3 separate regions of the Homo sapiens genome follow, and regions 1 and 3 are each linked to region 2. Evidence: fine-mapped expression QTL. A gene starts in region 2. Each other region holds a variant in brackets. All regions are shown on one strand. Distances are between the middles of the regions. Region 1 overlaps FAM186A (family with sequence similarity 186 member A). Region 2 holds the start of CERS5 (ceramide synthase 5). Region 3 overlaps CERS5 (ceramide synthase 5).

Region 1 (10,941 bases), 200 kb before region 2:
GCAGAAAGTAACCTTACACATAGACATTTTCATATGGTTGAAGCTGTACCTCCAAGGTATATTCCTAGAAATGGGATTGCTGGGTTAAAATTTAAGTGTACCTGAAGTTCTTTTAAGCACTGACACATTTTCTTCCAGAATAGTTGTGCCAATTTGTATTCCCACTAGTGATATGATTTGTAAATATTTATTCCCAGATTGTGGCTTGACTTTTCATTTTCTTTTTTTTAATTTAATTTTATATATATATGTGTGTGTGTATATATATGTATGTGTATATATATATATATACAATTTACATATGTGTATATATATATATACAATTTACATATGTGTATATATATATATATACAATTTACATATATGTATATATATATTTTGAGATGGAGTCTCACTCTGTCTCCCCGGCTGGAGTGCAGTGGTGAAATCTCGGCTCACTGTTTCCTCTGCTCCTGGGGTTCAAACGATTCTCCTGCCTCAGCCTCCCGAGTAGCTGGGATTACAGGCGCCTGCCACTGCACCTGGCTAATTTTTGTACTTTTTAGTAGAGACAGGGTTTCACCATCTTGGCCAGGCTGGTCTTGAACTTCTGACCTCGTGATCCACCCACCTCGGCCTCCCAAAGTGTTGGGATTACAGGCGTGAGCCACCGTGCTCGGCTGACTTCATTTTCTTTTTTTTTTTTGAGATGGAGTTTCGCTCTTGTTGTCGAGGCTGGAGTGTAATGTCGCAATCTCGGCTCACTGCAACCTCCGCCTCCCGGTTCAAGCAATTCTCTTACCTCAGCCTCCAGAGTAGCTGGGATTACAGGCATGTGGCCACCACGCCGGCTAATTTTGTATTTTTAGTAGAGACAGGGTTTTTCCATGTTGGTCAGCCTGGTCTCAAATTCCCGACCTCAGGTGATCCACCTGCCTTGGCCGCCCAAAGTGCTGGGATGAGCAGGCATGAGCCACCTCGCCTCGCCGACTTTTCATTTTCTTAACAGTATCTTTCATATTGCAGAAGTCTTACATTTTTGTGAAATCTAATGTATCATGTTGTACTTTCTTTCTTTTCTTGTTTTTTTTTTTTTGAGGTGGAGTTTTGCTCTTTTGCCCGGGCTGGAGTGAAGTGGCACGATCTTGGCTCACTGAAACTTCTGCCCCCACCGGGTTCAAGCAATTCTCTTTCCTCAGCCTTCTAAGTAGCTGGGATTATAGGTGCCAGCCACCACGCCCGGCTAATTTTTGTATTTTTAGTAGAGACAGGGTTTCACCATGTTGGCTAGGCTGGTCTCCAACTCCTGACCTCAGGTGATCCACCTGCCTCGGCCTCCCAAAGTGCTAGGATTACAGGCGTGAGCCACTGCGCCTGGCCTTGTGTTGTACTTTCATTGGTTGTGCCTTCGTTATCATATCAAAGAAATCATTGCCTTAACCCAAGTTCGTATTTTCTCCCATGTTTTCTTCTAGAAGTTTTATAGTGTTAAATTTTATATTTAGCTCATAGATTCATTTGACTAAATTTTTGAAATATTGTGCAAGATATGAATAAAAGCTTGTTTTTCACTTCTGGTTTGTGGATATTCAATTATTTGAACACCACTTGTTAAAAAGACTGTCCTTTCTCTACTGAGTTGCATTTGCACCTCTGTCAAAAATTAATTGACCACATGTATGTGAGTCCTTTTCTAAACACTCTATTCTATTCCATTCATGTATTTGTCCGTCATTACACCAATACCATACTGTCCTGATGATTGTAGTTCTTTTTTCCCCCTTTTTACTACCTAATTGCCAAATGGTGTTTCTTCCAACCTTGTGTTTTTTCCACTTCCAGAAGATTGCCCCTTTAAATTGTGCATCTTTAAACACAGTTCTGCTGGGTGCAGTGGCTCATGCCTATAATCCCAAGCACTCATGAGGCTGAGGTGGGAGGACCATTTGAGCCCAGGAGTTTCAGACCAGCTTGAGCAACACAGTGAGATCCCATCTCTAAAAAAAATAAAAATAAAAAATAATTAGCTGACCATGGTGGCACTCGTCTGTAGTCCCAGCTACTTGGGAGGTGAAGGAGGAAGGATCTCTTGAGCCCAGGAGTCCTAGGCTGCAGTGAGCTGTGACTGCATCACTGAACTCCAGCCTGGGCAACAGAATAAGACCTTGTCTAAAAAAAAAAAAAGAGAGAGAGAGAGAGAGGTAAAAGGAGGTTTGACCCACATTGCCAGTTTAGGGTGGAGTCCAGGACCAGAGTGAGAACTTCCTTGATGCCTTTTGGCCGATCAGATGGTACTTTTACCAGGCCCACCATGGCTGCTCATGGACCAGTCAGCATGCACTTCCTCCCTTTTGAGCCCATAAAAACCCCAGACTTAGCCAGACTCAGAGACTCCTAGGGACTACCTGCCTGCAGACAGAAGCTATCCACTTTGAGTGGCCTATACTCATCAGGCCTACCTGCCTTTGGATAGCAGCTACCCACTTCAAGTCTCCTCTACCCTTGTTGGGATGACTTGCCTGCGGATAGGAGCTACTCACTTCAGGTATCCTCTCTGCTGAGAGCTCTTCTGTTGCTCAGTAAAGCTCCTCTCCACCTTGCTCACCCTTCAGTTGTCCATGTAAACTCATTCTTCCTAGACATGAGACAGGAACTTGGGACTGAACAGCAGGAGCTAAAAGAGCTGTAACACATCCCCAGCTTGCTCACTGAGCTATGGGTTGTGACATGCCCCCGGACCGTGTGAGTGAAAAGTGGTGATCCTTCTGAGGGCCCAGACCTCTGAGCTTTTGGGCACCACTGAGTTTCCCTCATCCAGACACTGGTGCCTGCAGCAGAACCTGCTTGTGGTATGTCTGGTCCAGCCACAGCCTCTCCCAGAGCCAGTGCTTGTGCCAGCACCTGGAGATGCCTGCCCTGCTGCTACAGTGGGGGTGCACAGTGGCCAGACCCTGCACTTGCTTGCTCACACACCCCTCGGTGCTCCATGCCTGGCTCACCCTTGGCAGGCATGGGATCCGGGCCGGTATCACGATCTGAGGGCAGCTTGCTGGGCCTAGTAGGTGGAATGAGCCCAGTGGGCATGAGCAAAACTCAAGCAGAGGCGTCGCTGGCCACAGAGGTTTCTGGCTGGCAAAGTGACACCCATAGGATCCTGTGACACTGTTTTATTAAATTTCAATTTCTTTTTCTTTTTCTTTTTCTTTTTTTTTTTGAGATGGAGTCTCCCTCTGTCACCCAGGCTAGAGTGCAGTGGCACAATCTCGGCTCACTGCAATCTCTGCCTCCCAGGTTCAGGCGATTCTCCTGCCTCAGCCTCCCGATTAGCTGAGATTACAGGTATGCACCACCATACCTGGCTACTTTTTTTTTTTTTTTTTTGAGACAGAGCTTCGCTCTTGTTGCCCAGGTTGGAGTGCAATGGTGCAATCTCGGCTCGCTGCAACCTCTGCCTCCCGGGTTCAAGCAATTCTTTTGCCTCATCCTCCTAAGTAGCTGGGATTATAGGTGTGTGCCAACATGTCTGGCTAATTTTTTGTATTTTTAGTCGAGACAGGGTTTCACCATGTTGGCCAGGCTGGCCTCAAACTCCTGACCTCAGGTGATCCACCCACCTTGGCCTCCCAAATTGCTGGGATTACAGGCATGAGCCACCACACTCGGCCAAATTTCAGTTTGTAATTGTATATCGCTAGTGTAAATAAATGGTTTTTGGTTTGTTTTATTTTATTTGTATTTATTTATTTATTTTTTGAGATGGAGTGTCACTCTGTGGCCCAGGCTGGAGTGCAGAGAAGCGATCTTGGCTCACTGCAACCTCTGCCTCCTGGGTTCAAGCGATTCTCATGCCTCAGCCTCCCAGGTAGATGGGACTACAGGCACATGCCACCACGCCCGGCTAATTTTTGTATTTTTGATAGAAAGGGAGTTTCGTCATGTTGGCCAGTCTGGTCCTGAACTTCTGTACTCAAGTGACCTGCCAGCCTTGGCCTCCCAAAGTGCTGGGATTACAGGTGTGAGACACTGCTCCTGGCCTCTTTGGTAAATTCTTTGGGAGTTTTTACATGGACAAACTTTTTGTTGTAAATAGAAACCATGTTGCTTCTCTCTTTCCAATCCATTTTCCTGTATTTCTTTTTTTGACCTTATTGAATTGGTTAGGACATTTATCCAATGTTGAGCAGAAGTGATTAGAACAGAACCTTTAGAGCACTTGAGACGTTTACCATTAAGTATGATGCTAGCTGTAAATGTTTTGTAAATGCTCTTTATCAGGTTGAGGAAATTACCCTCTATTCCTCATTTATTATCGAGCTTCTTTTAGAAATCATGAATGAATGTTGAATTTTGTCAACTTCTTTTTCTGTATATACCGAGGCGATAAATGGTTCTTCTTTAATCCGTTGACATAGTGAGTTACATTTAGAAATTATCAAATTTTGAATCAGCCTTGCATACCAGGGTAAATCCCACTTTTTCATGATGCTATTTTTTAAGGATATTGTTTGTTTCTATTTTCTATTTTATTTTATTGGTCACCTATCTGTCCCAGAATTTTTGAAAATCTTTTTTTTTTAATTTCTATAAAGATTTTTATTTAGAACTTTCTTTCTTTCTTTCTTTATTATTATTATACTTTAAGTTTTAGGGTACATGTGCACAATGTGCAGGTTAGTTACATATGTATACATGTGCCATGCTGGTGCGCTGCACCCACTAACTCGTCATCTAGCATTAGGTGTATCTCCCAGTGCTATCCCTCCCCCCTCCCCCCACCCCACAACAGTCCCCAGAGTGTGATGTTCCCCTTCCTGTGTCCATGTGTTCTCATTGTTCAGTTCCCACCTATGAGTGAGAATATGCGGTGTTTGGTTTTTTGTTCTTGCGATAGTTTACTGAGAATGATGATTTCCAATTTCATCCATGTCCTTATAAAGGACATGAACTCATCATTTTTTATGGCTGCATAGTATTCCATGGTGTATATGTGCCACATTTTCTTAATCCAGTCTATCATTGTTGGACATTTGGGTTGGTTCCAAGTCTTTGCTATTGTGAATAATGCTGCAATAAACATACGTGTGCATGTGTCTTTATAGCAGCATGATTTATAATCCCTTGGGTATATACCCAGTAATGGGATGGCTGGGTCAAATGGTATTTCTAGTTCTAGATCCCTGAGGAATGGCCACACTGATTTCCACAATGGTTGAACTAGTTTACAGTCCCACCAACAGTGTAAAAGTGTTCCTATTTCTCCACATCCTCTCCAGCACCTATTGTTTCCTGACTTTTAAATGATTGCCATTCTAACTGGTGTGAGATGGTATGAAAATCTTATGAAGCATTTTTTGTGACTATTTTCATGAGGTGAGGGATATTGGTTTGTAGTTTTCTTCTTTTACATCTGTCTGATTTTGATATCAGGGTAACGCTGACATCAAAGAATGAGTCAGGAATTGCTCCTTCCTCTTCAACTTTTTGGAAAAGTTTGTGAGCTATTAGTATTATTTCTTTTTCTGTTTTGTTTTTTTGAGATGGAGTCTTACTCTGTCATCCAGGCTGGAGTGCAATGGTGTGGTCTCGGCTCACTGCAACCTCTGCCTGCCGGGTTTGAGCAGTTCTCCTGCCTCAGCCTACCAAGAAGCTGGGACTACAGGTGCGTGCCACCACACC[C/T]GGCTAATTTTTGCATTTTCAGTAGAGACGGGGTTTCACTATGTGGGCCAGGCTGGTCTTGAATTCCTGACCTCGTGATATGCCCACCTCGGCCTCCTAAACTGCTGGGATTACAGGTGTGAGCCACCGTTGCCCAGCCTAGTTTTTCTTTCTTTCTTTTCTTTCTTTCTTTCTTTTCTCTTTCTTTCTTTCTTTCTTTCTTTCTTTCTTTCTTTCTTTCTTTCTTTCTTTCTTTCTTTCTTTCTTTCTTTCTTTCATTCCTTCCTTCCTTCCTCCCTCCGTCCCTCCCTCCCTCCCTCCTTCCTCCTTCCTTCCTTCCTTCTTTCTTTCTTTTTTCTTTTTTTTTTTTTTTAGACGGAGTCTTGCTCTGTCGCCCAGGAGACTGGAGTGCAGTGGCACCATCTCGGCTCACAGTAACCTCTGCCTCCGGGGTTCAAGCAATTCTCTGCCTCATACTCCCAAGTACCTGGGATTACAGTCACCCACCAATATGCCCAGCTAATTTTTTGTATTTTTAGTAGAGATGGGGTTTCACCATCTTGGGCAGGTCAGTCTCCAACTCCTGACCTCAAGTGATCCACCCGCCTCGGCCTCCCAAAGTGCTGGGATTACAGATGTGAACCACCGTGCCCGGCCTAGTATTATTTCTTTTTTTTTTTTTGAGACAGAGTCTCACACTGTCGCCCGGGCTGGCATGCAGTGACACAATCTTGGCTCACTGCAACCTCTGCCTCCCAGGTTCAAGCAATTCTCCTGTCTCAGCCTCCCAAGTAGCTGGGATTACAGGTGCCCACCACCATGCCCGGCTAATTTTTTGTATTTTTAGTAGAGACGGGGGTTTCACTATGTTGCCCAGGCTGGTCTTGAACGCCTGACCTCATGATCCACCCTCCTTGGCCTTCCAAAGTGCTGGGATTACAGGCTTGAGCCACTGCACCTGGCGTATTTATTTCTTAACCACCATACTATGTATTAGTTGTGATGTTATTCTTTATCACTTGGCTTGGCCAACTTTGTCTCCCGTCTCCTGTGTTCTTGACTTAAGTTAGATTTGCTACAACTGCATCACCTCTTTTTCTGATTCCAGTATTTCCATACTTAACGTTTGATTATTCCTTTTTAAATTAAAAAAAAAATTAATTGGGCCAGCCACGATGGCTCACGCCTGTAATCCCAGCACTTTGGGAGGCCAAGGCAGGTGGATCACCTGAGGTTAGGAGTTTGAGACCAGCCTGACCAACATGGTGAAACCCCGTCTCTACTAAAAATACAAAATTAACTGGGTATTGTGGCGCATGCCTGTAATCCCAGCTACTTGGGAGGCTGAGGCAGGAGAATCGCTTGAACCCAGGAGGCCGATGTTGCCGTGAGCCAAGATCATGCCATTGCACTCCAACCTGGGCAATAAGAGCGAAACTCCGTCTAAAAAAAAAAATTAATTGTGGTAAAATATACATAAAATTTACTGCCTTAATTATTTTTAAGTATATAGTACAATAGTTTTAAGTGTGAATATATATTGCCATACATTATTTTGCAACCAAAGTCAGAACTATTTCACCTTTCAAAACTGAAGTTCTATATCCATTAAACAACAATATCCATTTCCCTTTCTCCTTATCCCCTAAAAACCACAACTGTACTTAGTTTCTATGAATTCAACTATTCTAGATACCTCATTTAAGTGGAATCATAAAGTATTTGTCTTTTTATGACTGGCTTATTCACTCAGCATAGTCTGTTCAAGGTTCATCCATATTGTAGTGTATGTCAAAATATCCTTCAATTTTAAGGCTGAATAACATTCTATTATGTATATTTTAAAATTAAATTAAGTTGGCCGGGCACGGTGGCTCACGCCTGTAATCCTAACACTTTGGGAGGCAGAGGCAGATGGATCATGAGGTCAGGAGTTCAAGACCAGCCTGGCCAAGATGGTGAAACCCCGTCTCTACTAAAAAATACAAAAATTAGCTGGGCATGGAGGCAGGCGCCTGTAACCCCAGCTACTCTGGAGGCTGAGGCAGGAGAATCACTTGAACCCTGAGGTGGAGTTTGCAGTCAGCCGAGATCATGCCACTGCACTCTAGCCTAGGTGACAGAGTAAGATTCTGCCTCAAAAAAAAAAATTAAATTGAATTAAATTTTATTTTTTTGAGATGAAGTCTCGCTCTGTTGCTCAGGCTGGAGTGCTGTGGTGCAATCTTGGCTCACTGTAACCTCCATCTCCTGGGTTCAAGCGATTCTTCTGCCTCAGTCTCCCAAGTAGCTGGGATTACAGGCACCCGCCACCATGCCTGGCTAATTTTTGTGTTTTTTAGTGCAACGTGAGGTTTCATCGTGTTGGCCAGCGTGGTCTCAAACCCCTGACCTCAAGTGACCTGCCCACCTCAGCCTCCCAAAGTGCCGGGATTACAGGCATGAGTCACTGTGCCTGGCCTCCATTGTGTATATATATAAATATATACCACATTTTGTTTATCCATTTATCTGTCAATGGGCACTTGGGTTACTTCTACCTCTTGGTTATTGTGAATAACGACACTATGAGCATGAGTGTACAAATATTTCTTAGGGACCCTGCTTATAATTCTTTTGGATGTATACACAGAGAACAATTGCTAGATCATATAGTGATACTATTTTTAATATCTGGAGGAACTGTCATCCTTTTCTTCACAGCAGCTGCACAATATTACATTCCTACCAGCAGTGCACAGGGTTCCAATTTTGCACAGCCTCACCCACACTTGTTATTTTCTGTTTTTTTCATAGTAGCCATCTTAATGGGTATGAAGTAGTATATCATTGTGGTTTTGATTTACATTTTCCTAATTACTAGTTACGTTGAACATATTTTCATATATTTTTGGGCCATTTGTATATCTTTTTTGGATCCTTTGCCCATTTTAAAATTGGTTTATTTGGGTTTTTGTTTTTGTTTTTTGGGGGGTATGGAGTGTCACTCTGTCGCCTAGGATGGAATGCAGTGGCACAATCTCGGCTCACTGCAACCTCTACCTCCCAGGCTCAAGTGATTCTTGTGCCTCAGCCACCCAAGTAGCTGGGATTACAGGAGTGTGCCACCATGCCTGGCTAAGTTTTGCTTTTTTTTTTTTTTTTTTTTTTTTGAGATGGAGTCTCGCTCTGTCGCCCAGGCTGGGGTGCAGTGGTGCAATCTCTGCTCACTGCAAGCTCCGCCTCCCGGGTTCACGCCATTCTCCTGCCTCAGCCTCCCGAGTAGCTGGGACTACAGGCGCCCACCACCACGCCCGGCTAATTTTTTGTATTTTTAGTAGAGACGGGGTTTCACTGTGTTAGTCAGGATGGTCTCGATCTCCTGACCTCATGATCCACCCTCCTCGGCCTCCCAAAGTGCTGGGATTACAGGCGTGAGCCACCGCGCCCGGCCTAAATTTTGCATTTTTAGTAGGGATGGGGTTTCACAGTGTTGGCCAGGCTGGTCTCAAACTCCTGACTTCAACTGATCTGTCCACCTCAGCCTCCCAAAGTCCTGGGATTATAGGGGTGAGCCACCAGTGCACAGCCTATTTGGGTTTTTTGGTTTTTCTTTTTTTGACATTGAGTTTGTACAAGTTATTTATATATTGTGGATATTAACCCTTAGTGGATATACAATTTGCAAATATTTTCTCCCATTTCCTAGGTTGACTTTTCAATCTGTTGATTTTTGTCCTTTGACAAACAAATGTTTTTAACTTTGATATAGTCCATTTATCTTTTTTTTTTTTTTTTTTGAGACGGAGTCTCACTCTGTCGCCCAGGCTGAGGCTGGAGTGCAGTGGCTCGATCTCAGCTCACTGCAACCTCTGCCTCCCGGGTTCAAGTAATTCTCCTGCCTCAGCCTCCCGAGTAGTTGGGTCTACAGGCGCCCACCACCATGCCTGGCTAATTTTTTTTGTATTTTTAGTAGAGACGGGGTTTCACCATGTTAGCCAGGATGGTCCGATCTCCTGACCTCGTGATCCGCCTGCCTCAGCCTCCCAGAGTGCTGGGATTACAGGAGTGAGCCACCGTGCCCAGCCCATTTATCTATTTTTACTTTTGTTGCATGTGATTTTGTGTCATGTCACCAAGAAATCATTGCCAAATCCAATGCCATGAAGCCTTTCTCCTATGTTTTCTTCTAAGTGTTTTATAAGTGTTAGGTCTTTAATCTATTTTGAGTTTAATTTTTTATATGATATAAGATAAGGATCCAACTTCATTCTTTCATGTGTAGGTATTCAGTTTTCCCACCAACATTTGTGTGTGTTTTTTTTTTTTTTAAAAGACTGTCCTTTCCTCATTGGATGGCCTTAGAATCCTTATGGAAAATAATTTAACCTTATGCTATGAATATACTATACTATACACATACTGTTAACTTGGTGTTTATTTATGGGCTCTCTATTCTATTCCATCAGGTTATATGTCTGTCGTTATGCCTGTACCACATTATTTTGATTAATGTAGCTTTGGAATAAGTTTGAAATCAGAAAATGTGGGATCTCCAACTTTGTTATTCTTTTTCAAGATTGTTTCAGCCATTCAGGATCCCTTGAGATTCCATGTAAATTTTAGGATGAATTTTTCTATTGCTGCAAAAGAAAAAAAAGCCATTGGGATTTTGATAGGGATTGCATTAATCTGTAGATTGGTTTGGGTAGTATTGACATCTTAACAATATTAAATATTCCAATCCATAAACATGTGATATCTTTCCATTTACTTGTGTTTTCTTTAATTTCTCTCAGTAACATTTTGTAGTGAAAACAACAAGTCTTTTACCTCCTTGGGTAAGTTTATTTCTAAATTTATTATTATTATTTAAAATATTTATTTATTTATTTTTGAGACAGAGTCTTGCTCTGTTGCCCAGGCTGGAATGCAGTGGCGCAATCATGGCTCACTACAGGATCCACCTCCCGGGTGAAGAAATTCTCCTGCCTCAGCCTCCTGAGTAGCTGGGATTATAAATGCCCACCACCATGCTGGCTAATTTTTGTATTTCTAGTAAAGATGGGGTTTCACCATGTTGGCCAGGCTTGTCACGAACTCCTGACCTCAAGTGATCCACCTGTCTCGGCCTCTCAATATTATTATTTTTGAGACAGAGTCGCTCTCTGTTACCCAGGCTGGAGTGTAGTGGCGTGATCTCAGCTCACTGCAACCTCTGCCTCCCAGGTTCAAGTGATTCTCCCACCTCAGCCTCCTGAGTAGCTGGGATTACAAACACCCACCATCATAGCTGAATAATTTTTGTATTTTTGTAGACACAGGGTT
Region 2 (9,834 bases):
GATACTACTTTCTGCTCTTGCCCCCACTGAGTCATTTAAAGATCCATGTTCAGACCGGGCGCAGTGGCTCATGCCTGTAATCCCAGCACTTTGGGAGGCCGAGGCGGGCGGATCACCTGAGGTCAGGAGTTGGAGACCAGCCTGGCCAACATGGAGAAAACCCATCTCTACTAAAAATACAAAATTAGCCGGGCGTGGTGGCACATGCCTGTAATCCAAGCTACTCAGGAGGGTGAGGCAGGAGAATCGCTTGAACCCGGGAGGCAGAGGTTGCAGTGAGCGGACATCACACCATAGCACTCCAGCCTGCGCAACAACGACGAAACTCCGTCTCAAAAAAATAAAAAGCCGGGTGTGGTGGCTCATGCCTGTAATTCCAGCACTTTGGGAGGCAGAGGCGGGAGGATAACCTGAGGTTGGGAGTTCCAGACCAGCGTGACCAACATGGAGAAACCGCGTCTCTACTAAAAATACAAAATTAGCCGGGCATGGTGGCAGGTGCCTGTAATCCCAGGTACTAGAGAGGCTGAGGCAGGAGAATCGCTTGAACCTGGAAGGCAAAGGTTGCGGTGAGCCAAGATCATGCCATTGCACTCCAGCCTGGGCAACAAGAGCAAAACTCCATCTCAAAAAAAAAAAAAAAAAAATCCATATTCACGTTAATCCAAAAGCTCCCACTGATATAAAATATCCAATCCTGGCTTGAACTTCTGTGACTTGCGTTTTACTATAATCCATCCACATGGTACTCACATTATGCACTGACTTTATACAAAAAAGTTTAAGTACCTGTGGATATCAGTTGAGTGGGCCACCCCTTGGGGACTGAGATTACCCTCAGAAGAATTCTTTTTGACTGGGTGCGGTGGCTCACACCTGTAATCCCAGCACTTTGGGAGGCTGAGGTAGGTGGATCACAAGCTCAGGAGTTCAAGGCCAGCCTGGTCAGCATGGTGAAACCCCATCTCTACTAAAAATACAAAAATTAGCTGGGCATGGTGGTACGTGCCTATAGTCCCAGCTACTCAGGAGGCTGAGGCAGGAGAATCACTTGAACCCAGGATGTGGAGGCTGCAGTGAGCCGAGATTGCACCACTGCACTCCAGCCTAGGCAACAGAGTGAGACTCCATCTAAAAAAAAAAACAAAAAAACTCTTTTCTATGCCTTTCAAGGGCTAAGATATAGACGTATCATGGGTACACAGAGTAGGAACAAGGAATAGCTCCAGAGTCAATATAAAGAAAGGATGTCCTAGCCAAAAGAATGACCAGATAACACTGAACATTCTTAGAAAACAAAAGCAGCCAAACAGAAAAAGCATTAATCATTTGTTCTTTTAGCTCTCTAAATGAAGGCTACCTTGTTTGGACCTGGTATATCACTGGTGACTATAGGGTGATGACAGCTTTTCTGTTGGTAAAGCAGAAAAAGGGGCCAGCTTGGGACTTATGATGGTTAAGGAGGCTCTGCTCATGACTGCTACAAGGCCAGCTTGGTTCCAGTGACTTGCTGGATCACTCTTGGGCAAGGTGAAAGTAAATTTGCTTTGCATTACATATTTCATTAGCAATGTTTCCCAACAGCCAAGAGACTGGGAATTGGTACATGCTCATTTTTCTGGGGATAGAATCATGAACAGGGGCCAGGCACAGTAGCTCATGCCTGTAATCCCAGCACTTTGGGAGGCCAAGGTGGGCAGATCACCTGAGGTCAGGAGTTGGAGACCAGCCTGGCCAACACGGCGAAACCCCGTCTCTACTAAAAATACAAAAATTAGCCAGATGTAGTGGCGTGCACCTGTAATCCCAGCTACTTGGGAGGCTGAGGCAGGAGAATTGCTTGAACCCGGGAGGCAGAGGTTGCAGTGAGCTGAGATGGCGCCACTGCACTCCAGCCTGGGTGACAGAGCAAGACTCCATCTCAAAAAAAAAAAAAAAAAAAAATCATGAATAGGGTCTCAGACCAAGATCATTGTGTACTGGTGGTTCCTGTATGCTAAGTTAGTATGTCCTCTGTTCCTTGAGATGCTGATTGAAAATCCCATGGGGCTGGGTTTATTACTTCCTTTTAAAATATATCTTTTCTTTTTTTTTTTTTTTTTTTTTTTGAGATGGAGTCTCCATTTGTTGCCCAGGCTGGAGTGCAGTGGCACAATCGGGTCACTGCAACCTCCGTCTCCCGGGTTCAAGCGATTCTCCTGCCTTAGCCTCCCGAGTAGCTGGAACTACAGGCACCTGCCACCATGCCCAGCTAATTTTTATATTTTTGTACAGGTGGATTTTTGCCATGTTGACCAGGCTGGTCTTGAACTCCTGACCTCAGGTGATCCGCCTGCCTCAGCCTCCCAAAGTGCTGGGATTACAGGCGCGAGCCACCCTGCCCAGCCCTTTAAAACTGTATCTTAATATAGTGTAGTTACCATGAAGCTATTCCTGGGTTTGGATGGAAGTGGCTTCAGGCAGTGGTTCACAGAACAGCAGCAGTGGCATCACCTATGAGTTTGTTAGAAATGGGAAATGCAAATTCATAGATCCTACCCCCAAACTCATGAAAGCAGAATCTCTCTGGATGGGGTCCAGGAACTTAAAGAAACTCTCTTTATGCGAGATGGGACAAGCTGATATCTGAGCTGATGCTAAAGTTTGAGAGGCACTGAACTAAAATGAAGCTAACCAGCTGGGCTCGGTGGCTCACACCTGTAATCCCAGCACTTTGGGAGGCCAAGGCGGGCGGATCACCTGAGGTCAGGAGTTTAAGACCAGCCTGGCCAACATGGTGAAACCTCGTCTCATAAAAATACAAAAATTAGGCCGGGCGCAGTGGCTCACGCCTGTAATCCCAGCACTTTGGGAGGCCAAGGTGGGCGGATTACGAAGTCAGGAGATTGAGACCATCCTGCTAATACAGTGAAACCCCGTCTCTACTAAAAATACAAAAAAATTAGCCGGGTGTGGTGGCGGGCGCCTGTAGTCCCAGCTACTAGGGAGGCTGAGGCAGGAGAATGGCGTGAACCTGGAAGGCGGAGCTTGCAGTGAGCCGAGATCGCGCCACTGCTCTCCAGCCTGGGCGACAGAGCTAGACTCCGTCTCAAAAAAAAAAAAAAAAAAAAAAAAAATTCGGCCGGGCGTGGTGGCTCAAGCCTGTAATCCCAGCCATTTGCGAGGCCCAGGCGGGTGGATCACTTGGGTCAGGAGTTCCATGGCCAACATAGCGAAACACAATCTCTACTAAAAATACAAAAATTAGCAGGGCATGGTGGAGCCTGCCTGTAATCCTAGCTACTCGGGAGGCTGAGGGGAGAGAATAGCTTGAATCCAGGAGACGGAGGCTGAAGTGAGCCGAGATCCCGCCAGTGCACTCCAGCCTGGGCTACAGACCGAGACTCCGTTTCAAAAAAAAAAAAAAAAAAGCCGGGCGCGGTGGCTCACGCCTGTAATCCCAGCACTTTGGGAGGCCGAGGCGGGCGGATCACGAGGTCAGGAGATCGAGACCATCCCGGCTAAAACGGTGAAACCCTGTCTCTACTAAAAATACAAAAAATTAGCCGGGCGTAGTGGCGGGCGCCTGTAGTCCCAGCTACTTGGGAGGCTGAGGCAGGAGAATGGCGTGAACCCGGGAGGTGGAGCTTGCAGTGAGCTGAGATCCCGCCACTGCACTCCAGCCTGGGCGACAGAGCGAGACTCCGTCTCAAAAAAAAACAAAAAACAAAAAACAAAACAAAACAAACAAACAAAAAAAACACTTTAGGCTGGGCGGAGTGGCCTCACGCCTGTAGTCCCAGCACTTTGGGAGTGTGAGAAATCGGAAAGTTCTTCAAAGATTATAAAAAGTCACAATTTCTTACTATAAGATTGCTATCCACTGTGTGTGTGTGTGTGTGTGTATGTATGTGTGTGTGTGTGTGTGTGTGTGTGTGTGTGTGTGTGTGTATTCCAAATCAGCTGTCCTAGATTGCTCCTGCATGCCTGGACAGAACTAGACAAGCCCCAGCCCACAGTGCATGCCATTCCTTATTTGGTGATGCTTCCTTAATGATCCCTGGGCAACTTCCTTTTCTTTCTTTGTTCTGTTCCCCTTAACCAATTTTAAAAGTTTTAAACTAATAGCCAATCAGGTAAAGTGTAAAATGTGAGGTCCTATTCCAGCCAATGGAAAATGGACACAGCAGTAGGGTAGACACCTCAGATTATAAATAACTCTGTCTCCTTTGTTCGGTGTGCTCTCATGGCTAGACAGCTTTTGAGTAGCAGCACCCTTTCTGCAGAAAGTAAAGCTCTCCTTGCTGAGAGATCATTTGTTCCCGTGTTTTTTTGTTTTTGTTTTGTTTTCTTTTCTTTTCTTTTTGCAACACCAAAAACTTCATTCCCAACAGGGATACTGAGACAGGCAGATCACTTGAAGTCAGGAGTTCGAGACCAGCCTGGCCAACATGGTGAAACCCCAGGCTCTATCAAAAAATACAAAAATTAGTCGGGTGTGGTGGCACGTGTCTGTAGTCCCAGCTACTCGGGAGGCTGAGAAGGGAGGATCTCTTGAACCCAGAGGTGGAGGTTGCAGTGAGCAGAAATGGCACCACTGCGCTCCAGCCTGGGTGTGAGACTCCTTCTCACAAAAAAACATGCAAACAAACAAAACAGCCAAATTTAAAGGAGTTTTTTGTTTGTTTGTTTGTTTTGTTTTTTCTTTCCAAGACAAAGTCTCACTCCGTTGCCCAGGATAGAGTGCAGTGGTGCTATCTCAGCTCACTGCAACCTCCGCCTCCTGGGTTCAAGCGATTCTCTTGCCTCAGCTTCCCAAGTAACTGGGACTACAGACACGCACCACCACGCCCAGCTAATTTTTGTATTTTTAGTAGAGACGGAGTTTCACCATGTTAGCCAGGATGGTCTCGATCTCCTGACCTGTGATCCGCCTGCCTCGGCCTCCCAAAGTGCTAGGATTACAGGCGTGAGCCACCGTGCCCAGCCTAAAGGAGTTTGAGCAATGTATGATTCTCAAATTGGGCAGCCCCTGAATCACAGCAGATTCAGAGAGACCCAGCATATCCACAGAGACCCAGCATATTCACGTGGTGGAAGATTTATGGACAGCAAAATGAAAGTGAGGTACAGAAACAACCAGATTGGTTACAGATCAGCGTTTGTCTCATTTGAACGTGGTTGGAACAGTTGGCTACATTTGATTGGCCAAAATTCAGTGATTGGCACTGGTGTGGTCTACGTTCGATTTACACCTCCACTTGTTACAGTTCACAATGTACAGAAAACCTTTAGGCCGAACTTAAATATGTAAGGAGGCAGCTTTAGATTAAACTTGACTTAACACTAGCTACCACTTCTTACCTACATAACTTTGGGCAAGTTGTTTGGCCTCACTGGACCTCAGTTTACTTATCCAGTGGGGATAACAAGATCAACTTTATAGGGTGAAGGAGTGAAATAACCTGTGTAAAATGTTCCATGCAGTGCCTGGCACACAGGAAACCTCATCAAACATTGGCTATTTATTTTGTTTTGCCTTTAGGTCCTTTAGATATACTTTTTTTTTTTTTTTTTTTGAGACGAGTCTCACTTTGTCGCCCAGGCTGGAGTGTAGTGGCGCAATCTGGGCTCACTGCAAGCTCCGCCTCCCGGGTTCACGCCATTCTCCTGCCTGAGCCTCCCAAGTAGCTGGGACTACAGGCGCCCGCCACCATGCCTGGCTAATTTTTTGTATTTTAATAGAGATGGGGTTTCACCGTGTTAGCCAGGATGGTCTCGATCTCCTGACCTCATGATCCGCCCGCCTCGGCCTCCCAAAGTGTTGGGATTACAGGCGTGAGCCGCGCCCGGCCTTTTTTTGTTTGTTTTTGTTTTGAGACGCTCTGTTGCCTAGGCTGGAGGGCAATGGCGTGGTCTCGGCTCACTGTGATCTCCGCCTCAAGCAATTCTCCTGCCTCAGCCTCCCGAGTAGCTAGGATTACAGGCATGCACCACCACACCCGGGTAATTTTTGTATTTTTAGTAGGGACGGGGTTTCACCATGGCCAGCCTGGTCTCGAACTCCTTACCTCAGGTGATTCTTCCGCCTTGGCCTTCCAACGTGCTGGGATTACAGGCGTGAGCCACCACACCCGGCCTGCCTTTACGTATACTTTTTGAGTGCTTCCCTTTTCACTTTGTTTTTCTTCCATTTCCTTTTCCCCAAGAGAAGAATAAAAGGATTTTTGTAAACTTTTTTTATTTTTATTTTGGGACGGAGTCTTTGGTCTGTCGCCCAGGCTGGAGTGCAATGGCGCGATTTCGGCTCACTGCGACCTCCGCCTCCCAGGTTCAAGCGATTCTCCTGTCCCAGCTTTCCGAGTAGCTGGGATTACAGGCACAGCGCCACCAGGCCCAGCTAATTTTTGTATTTTTAGTAGAGACGGGGTTTTGCCATGTTGGCCAGGCTGGTCTCGAACTCCTGACCTCAGGTGATCCGCCAGCCTCGGCCTCTGAAAGTGCTGGGATTACAGGCGTGAGCCACCGCGCCCGGCCTTTTGTAAACTGTTAAGTCCATTTTTTCTGAGGAAAAGTGACTAATTTTTAAGGGATAAAGCAGTGAAAGTAGGCTGAGGTCACGGGGCACGAAGGGAAGAAAAGGTTGGGAGCGAAAAGAACTCTAGTGGCGGACAGTAGTGGGCAGGACCAGCTGACATCCAAGAGAAGCCCTGACCTGAGAGATCGATCTGGCCTCCGGGAGTGGAGACAGAGGTACCGCCTGGGTGGGAGCCGGAACGGATTCGATTCCAACAGGCTGAGAAAGGAGAATGTCCCCGTAAAGGAGCTAGGCCTGAAATAAGGGGTGTGGCCGTAGCTGGATGGAAGAGTGAGGGAGGAGTAGAAGCGTGGCCTAGACCAGCAGCAAAAGAGGGCGGGCCCAGGGCCGCCCGAGGCGTGGTCCCAGGGCCGGGCTGGGCGAGTCAGAGGCTCGGGAAGGGGCGTGGATCCCCGGAGGCGGTCCCCGGGTTGCAGTGAGGGAAGTGGGCCGGGAGGAGAGATGGGCGGTGAAGAGGCCCGGCCCTGCCAGGGAGGCGGGCGGATCCGTGGCAGTGACCAGAAGGGGCCGGAAGGGGGTGGCCGCCGGCCGGGCCCCGCCCTGGGGCCGCCTCCCCGCGGGTTCCGTTGGCTGTGGCGGCAGCTGACGCTTGTGGCGGCGGTGGCTTCGGGGTGGGCGTAAGATGGCGACAGCAGCGCAGGGACCCCTAAGCTTGCTGTGGGGCTGGCTGTGGAGCGAGCGCTTCTGGCTACCCGAGAACGTGAGCTGGGCTGATCTGGAGGGGCCGGCCGACGGCTACGGTTACCCCCGCGGCCGGCACATCCTCTCGGTGTTCCCGCTGGCGGCGGGCATCTTCTTCGTGAGGCTGCTCTTCGAGCGGTGAGAGCCCGGGAGCGAGCGGCTCGGGGGCCGGGCGCGGGCCGGGGGCGCCCCGCTGTGGGAAGGGCCGAGGGCCGGAAGCAGAACTGCAAGGAAAGCCCGGAAGCAGGGGCTGGGGGAGCTTGGGCCGCGGCGGGTGATGCTAGGCGCGTGGGCGAGGTGGTAGCCTAGATGGAGAAGGAGTTTGGGGCGTGGGCAAGAGAAAGAGTGAGGGTCTAGGGGAATGCTGGGCCCCTTCAATGTTAGATCCGGAGTTGGATTGGGGGGGTCATATAGGCCTCCTCCCAACCTCCAAGGGTCCTACAGATGAGGAAACAGGTTCAGTGTGAGCTCTGGCAGAGGCCCCGAAGAGAGGGATAGGAAGGGGCCAGGAGAACCAGAGCTAGTTGTGACCATGGAAGCCGAGGGGTCAACGCAAGGGCCAGACGTTCCAAGGGAAAGGAATGGACTCATCAGACTCTTAAGATTTGTTAGGACGCTTGAGTTTCCGAGAATTGGGGGGAACAGGATTAGTTTGGCCCTAAGAGTTGGTTTGGTATGTCAACTCATGCACGTTTGTTGGTAGGAGGGTAGAAATCTGGTTGGGATAGGGTGTGGTGGAGCCCTAGGCTTCCAAAGTAATGGAAAGATGTCAGATTAGTTGCAGAACAGGCCTTGGGGCCTGAAATGGAAGGAGGAGTGTGTTCGAAGGGATGGAGGAGAGCCACAGGGCTTTATCAGAGGACAGCTATATTGAGCCAGATTCTTTTTTCTTTTCTTTTTTTTTTTTTTTTTTTTGAGACAGAGTTTCGCTCTTGTTGCCCAGGCTGGCGTGCAATGGCACGATCTCGGCTTACCGCGACCTCCGCCTCCCCTGTTGAAGCGATTCTCCTGCCTCAGCCTCCCGAGTAGCTGGAATTACAGGCACGCGCCACCACGCCCGGCTACTTTTTGTATTTTTAGTAGAGACGGGGTTTCGCCATGTTGGCCAGGCTGGTCTGTAACTCCTGACCTCAAGTGATCCGCCCGCCTCTGCCTCCCAAAGTGCTGGGATTACAGGCGTGAGCCACCGCACCCGGCCTTGAGCCAGCTTCTAAATGAGTTTAGCAGAATTGCAGTATACTTTGTTCAACCACATGATTTCACCTTTAAGTGAATGGATCATATGTTTGTCCAAGATAAAGATATTCACTGAGGCTTTGGTGTGTGATATTATAATGTGAATTTATACCTGTGGGTGATTTTGATCAAGTCTACTCAGACTCCAAGAAAGGAGACATGTTTCTGCCATAGGCCTCAGGTAATGAGGGTGGTTCTTGGACATCTGTTCGTTTTGCCTTTATCCAAGCATAAATGATTGTAATGCAGGAATGCCCTTTCTAGGATGGGAATATGTTGCAGGTGAAATAATCTGTTAATTTCTGAAAGATAGCATCTGTTTGGGATTGCTTCTTTGATTTGCCTACTGTTTTTGACTCAAGTCTTTCAAAATCTTGTGTTCTATTTAGCTAGTCACGCATCCATTTATTCGTAGTATTTGTGCATCATCATCATCAAAATGCTCTGCCAGACGTTCAAGTGCAAAAATAAAGATGCTTAAGTGAAGCAAATGAAACCCAAAGATCTAAATGGCTTTCCTTGGCCCTCAGGAACTTAGTGTAGCAAGGTTTTTTTTTTTTTCTTTTTCTTTTTCTTTTTTTTTTGAGACGGAGTCTCGCTCTGTCGCCCAGGCTGGAGTGCAGTGGCGCGATCTCAGCTCACTGCAAGCTCCGCCTCTCGGGTTCACGCCATTCTCCTGCTTCAGTCTCCCGAGTAGCTGAAACTACAGGCGCCCGCCACCATGTCCGGCTAATTTTTTGTATTTTTAGTAGAGACGGGGATTCACCGTCTTAGCCAGGAAGGTCTCGATCTCCTGACCTCGTAATACGCCTGCCTCGGCCTCCCAAAGTGCTGGGATTACAAGCGTGAACCGCCGCGCCCGGCCTTGTTTTGTCTTTTTACGTGTAATCGTTGTAGTTAGTCATCCTGGAGTGGAGGCACAAACTGCTTGTCTGTCTTTGGAATAAACTAGATCCAGGTACTCTCTTCCATAGTCTCTGTATATGAGGGCCAAAAAAAAAAAGGAGGAAGGCAATGTAATCACTACAAAGGAAAATACACAAGTCAGGACAAATTTTTTTTTAAAAGGTGATTTTCATAGAAAAACATCTCTGCTTTTCATATAAATATGTGCCAATATGGAAATTTCCCCATGTTAGTGGTAAGAGGAAATAGTTTTGTTGCTTATAAACACCCATTTTATATAAACTTACGTATCTCTTGAGATTCCAAAGTGTTCCCTCAGATGGCTGAAGACATATATCCCCTGGCAGAGCTGCTGGAAGGGATCCTTTACCTGTGGGAATTCTATCTGAGTGTTTCTATGGTGCTCCAGTGTCAGAGGAGTACAGGTGGATGGG
Region 3 (5,000 bases), 36 kb after region 2:
TATTGCCCTGCTTTTACCTTAGCCTGTGCTGACCTTCTGTGGACTCTCATAGGACCTCTGCTGCCTCAGACCGTATTTCTAGCAAGGTCGGATCCAGACTCAGAGTACCCGGCTTGGTTGGCTTCTCAGGACTGACTCATCTCTGAGGAACAGTCCTCATTTTATGCCTAAGTAATTCCTTTGACTTCTTTTGCACTGTTGATACAATTCTCAGTCCCTTCTTGCTTGTGTTCCTGCTCTGGTCCCAACCCTGACACACACACACACACACACACACACACACACACACACACACTCCTCTCTCTCTCTTCCTCCCTCTCCTCTCTCTCCCTCCCTCCCCTCTCTCCCTCCCTCCTCTCTCTCTCCCTCCCTGTCCTCCTCTCTCTCCCTCCCTCTCCTCTCTCTCTCTTCCTCCCTCTCCTCTCTCTCCCTCCCTCCCCTCTCTCTCCCTCCCTCCTCTCTCTCTCCCTCCCTCTCCTCTCTCTCCCTCCCTCCCTCTCCTCTCTCTCCCTGTCTCCTTTCACTTTTACATTCACTGCTCTATGGGAATCAGCTACCTACTGTCCTATCCTATATGTGCCTGAGGAGCTCAGTCATTCATAGGATTAGAGTCCCACTGCTGTCCTAATTTCGTGAAACTCTGGATATTTGAAGTGATTAATAATGTGACTTAATCCATCAGTTCCTAAGATTTATATATCTTTCTCTGTCCCTAAGGATAGAAAACACAACAGGCTCCTCCCTTTCTTTATTTTCTTACTGTGGATGACGGTCCCTGGAACTTCAGCTGATAAAAGGGCTGGTAGGAAAACACACAGGGCTCTGCATCCCCAGGACTCAGCTTCATCCCTGTCTGCTGAGCTTTGACTCTAGAATCTGACTATTGGCCTCCCTCTTCTAGGATTCTGAACACGACCCTCTTTGAGAGTTGGGAGATAATCGGGCCTTATGCTTCATGGTGGCTCCTCAATGGCCTGCTGCTGACCCTACAGCTTCTGCATGTCATCTGGTCCTACCTAATTGCACGGATTGCTTTGAAAGCCTTGATCAGGGGAAAGGTGAGGATGAAAGATGGCTTCTTTCTTTTGGGTATGGAAGATAGGGATTACTCAACAGACGTTCTCTCTCCATCAAACCTGGTGAGCCCCATCTACTCAAGCAGGCCAAGCAAAAAGCCTAGGGCTCCAAAGTCTTCGCCTCTTCGGTAAGTGTTTTGCCTTTTTTATTTTAGAGACAAGGTCTTGCTCTGTCACCCAGGCTGGAGTTCAGTGGCATGATCATAGCTTACTGCAGCCTCACACCTGGGCTTGGATTCTCCCACTGCAGCCTCCCAAGTAGCTGGGACTATAGGTGTGCACCACCACGCCTGGCTAATTTTCTTATTTTTTGTAGATAGGGTGTCACTATGTTACCCAGGCCAATGTCCAACTACTGGCCTCAAGCAGTCCTCCCACCACGGCTTCCCAAAGCGATGGAATTACAGGTGTGAGCCACCACACCAAGCCTGTTTTACCTTTTTTTTTTTTTTTTTTCAGATGGAATCTCGCTCTGTTGCCCAGGCTGGAGTGCAATGTCACGATCTTGGCTCACCACAACCTCCACCTCCTGGGTTCAAGCGATTCTCCTGCCTCAGCCTCCCTAGTAGCTGGGATTACAGGCGCATGCCACCAGGCCTGGCTAATTTTTGTATTCTTAGTAGAAACGGGGTTTCACTATGTTGGCCAGGCTGGTCTCTAACTCCCGACCTTGTGATCTGCCCACCTTGGCCTCCCGAAGTGCTGGGATTACAGGCGTGAGCCACCGCACCTGGCCTGCCTGTTTTACCTTTTAAGATGTGACTTAGACGCAAGAGGAAAGTTCTACCTTCTTCCTGTCCCTTAGGAATGGCTTTTGTTAAAGGATGATAGGGTTAAGAGTTTTTTAAGAGATGGCCTCAACCATTTCCTACCCCTTACCTACCTGCTTCAGTGGATTTCATATTTTTCTTTTTGACATGGGGCCCTTTTCAAAGGAAATCATATGCAGAACCATATAAACTGTATAAAAGCAGATTGTTAAGTTGCCTAGAAGTGGTGTGTGGTAGTTCACAAGCCACCACAAGGTGACCATGCTGTGATATTCAAGATATGGTTTATATAAGGAACTAAATACCCACCTCACCCCACTAGTGTATGAGGCAAGTGTCCTAAGTGAATGGGTATGTAGTGTTTCAAATACCCATCTTATGCCAAGAGCGAAAGAAAGGTGCCACTTAATGATAAACTCATAATTGAACTTTGCAAGTTTTGAAGCAGTCAGACTGTAGTCAAAGGGCTAGGGATTTCAGCCTAAAGGAATACAGAATCCCAAGTGGGAGGGGCTCTGCTTGAGCAGGTACTGATACTAGGACCAAGTGATGGAATGTGGCCTAGATATTGATGATCTCCTGCATCATTATTCCTTATAGCTGCCATTGGCTCAGAACTTGCTCAGTGTGCCTGTGCATCTTGCTGTAGCTACTGGACATCTCTGTTCTCTCCTGCTTTTCTTTCCTGACTAGGTGACCTGTCCAGGAAGGATTAGACCCTGTACT[C/T]TCCACTCTTTCCTCACCTCCTTCCTTTTTTCTATGCCTGGCGGGAGCTGGACAGTTTCATCTCTTGCATGTAAGTGTATCTGTGCTTCTAGTATTCAGTGAGGCATGTCCATCTGAATGTGGTTCTCTTTCCTCCTGCTCTCCTTTCTGTTCCCTTGTGTTTGTCTCAGAGCATGCCCTCTCTCCTGACTTTTCGGGGCCATTATTGACTAGAGCTGCAGTTGCCAGATTTTTTCCTAAACTGAGGCAAGAATTGAGTCTACTTTTTTTTGTTTTTCTTGAGTCTCTGTTTACCTCAAATCTAGAGACACTCTGCCCTCTAGTGGAAATTTCCTAAAGGTCAGGTAATCAGTTAGTCATCTAAGTTCAGAGGCCAACAGCTATAATCAACTGTAGAAGACCCATCCAACACAAATTCAAGGAGCTGATCCAAAGCAAATGCCCACCTCCTTGGCAACAGTTGTTACAGCTGTGTTCCTTTTCACTTCCTTCTCTCCTTTACTTAAACCACATTTATTATCCTTCAGTTCTGGAGGTCAGAAGTCCGACACAGGTCTCACTGGATTTCTGTTCTTTACTATTAGAGTCCAGGGTAATTTTTTTTTTTTAATTTTTATTTATTTATTTTTGAGACAGAGTTTAGCTCTTGTTGCCCAGGCTGGAGTGCAATGGCGTGATCTTGGCTCACTGCAACCTCTGCCTGCCCAGTTCAAGCGAGTCTCCTGCCTCAGCCTCCTGAGTAGCTGGGATTACAGGCATACGCCACCACGCCTGGCTAATTTTTTTGTATTTTTAGTAGAGACGGGGTTTCTTCATGTTGGTCTGGCTGGTCTCGAACTCCCGACCTCAGGTGATGCGCCCACTTCAGCCTCCCAAAGTGCTGGGATTACAGGCGTAAGCCACCATGCTCGGCCCTTTTTTTTTTTAGAGACAAGGTTTTGCTCCATTGCCCAGGCTGGAGTACAGTGGCGCAATCATGGCTCACTGCAGCCTCGACCTCCTGGGCTCAAGAGATGCTCCTGCCTCAGCCTCCCAAGTAGCTAGGACTACAGGTGCATGTCACCATGCCCAACTGATTTTGTCATTTTTTATTTTTTGTAGAGACAGGGCTCTCTCCATGTTGCCCAGGCTGGTCTCAAACTCTTGGGCTCAAGCTGTCCTCCTCCCTCAGCCTCCCAAAGTGCTAGGATTATAGGTGTAAGCCACTGTGCCTGGCTCATGGTGGAGAAATTGAAATACTTTGCTTGATATGCAGGATAGTTTAGATTAGGAAATGCTGCTGTAATCCAAATGCTTCATTTGAAAATAATACAAAACAAAAAAACCCAGGTTAATAAGCATTCACAGATGGTAGCATGATTAGAACTGGGATTCTTTTCTCATTGACTGCCAATCCATTTGTGTTTTCACTATACTGTGTATCTTGGGGATGCTGAAGTTTCTTTTTTTTTTTCTTTTTTTTTTTTTTTTTTTGAGATGGAGTCTCACTCTGTCGCCCACGCTGGAGTGCAGTGGCACGATCTCAGCTCACTGCAACCTCCACCTCCGGGGTTCAAGAGATTCTCCTGCCTCAGCCTCCTGAGTAGCTGGGATTACAGGTGCGCGCCACCACACCCGGCTAATTTTTGTATTTTTAGTAGAGACAGGGTTTCTCCATGTTGCTCAGGCTGGTCTCAAACTCCTGACCTTGTGATCCGCCTGCCTCGGCCTCCCAAAGTGCTGGGATTACAGGCGTGAGCCACCACGCCCAGCCAGGGATGCTGAAGTTTCATAAGAAAAGTGATCTTGCTATTGGGAAAGGGAAGAAGATTGGAAAACAGTGTCATAGGATAGTGGTAGTTGAGCCCAGGAGTGGGAAACTACTAAAAAAGGCCTGTTATGGATCAGCTTTGGGGATAAAGCAAAACAGCATAACCAATACGAATAAATGCATTGTCCACAACCACCAGAAGATAGAAGCATTGCTGACAGTCATACGTATTGTTCGTGTTGGCCTTCCCTGTTCTTTGAAGTGGAAGAAGAGAAAGGGTGTCTGAAACCTAAACCAGGTCTCAGTGAATGATGTCAGTTCTCTTAGGCTGGTCCTGAAAGACACACTCCTCTACCAAAGTAGCTTCAATTCCACAGAGAACAGAATTGGAGATGACAAGGGAGAAAACTAGAAAGCAGGTAAAGCATAGTCACAACAGTAGCCATAGTCCAGACAATACTTCTTTGAGTTAGATGTCATCAGAAAGCAGACCAGACTGGGAACACAGTGCCCACACCTGGGTCTCTGAGCTTAGGTGTCTTACAGTTCTTTCCTCACTTTTCTGTCTTTGGTCTCATCCCACCCAGGTATCGAAGGATGATCGCAGTGATGTGGAGAGCAGCTCAGAGGAAGAAGATGTGACCACCTGCACAAAAAGTCCCTGTGACAGTAGCTCCA

The links. PIP is the estimated chance that this variant, and not a neighbour inherited with it, causes the effect. A credible set is the group of variants that fine-mapping cannot tell apart.
Region 1: its variant is the best candidate, but not a certain one, in a credible set for the expression of CERS5 in amygdala (GTEx, PIP 0.86).
Region 3: its variant is the best candidate, but not a certain one, in a credible set for the expression of CERS5 in blood mononuclear cells (TOPMed, PIP 0.76).

What each region holds. Positions count from the first base shown.
Region 1 is chr12:50,367,969-50,378,909 of GRCh38, reverse strand. All of the region lies in intron 1 of FAM186A (family with sequence similarity 186 member A), which reads left to right. Among named protein-coding and RNA genes, the nearest start is that of FAM186A, 23 kb to the left of the region's middle. The variant C/T (reference allele first, on the strand shown) is at 5,656.
Region 2 is chr12:50,164,663-50,174,496 of GRCh38, reverse strand. CERS5 (ceramide synthase 5) reads left to right here and starts at 7,128. Exons shown (of 10, transcript NM_147190.5): 1 at 7,128-7,396. The coding sequence starts at 7,200. It overlaps LOC124902931 (a long non-coding RNA gene), which reads right to left. Exons shown (of 2, transcript XR_007063304.1): 2 at 8,874-9,471. RefSeq lists enhancers at 5,779-6,540, 6,592-6,751, 7,642-7,781 and silencers at 6,852-7,251, 7,352-7,501.
Region 3 is chr12:50,130,604-50,135,603 of GRCh38, reverse strand. CERS5 (ceramide synthase 5) reads left to right here. Exons shown (of 10, transcript NM_147190.5): 9 at 902-1,058; 10 at 4,910-5,000. Among named protein-coding and RNA genes, the nearest start is that of COX14, 21 kb to the right of the region's middle. The variant C/T (reference allele first, on the strand shown) is at 2,573.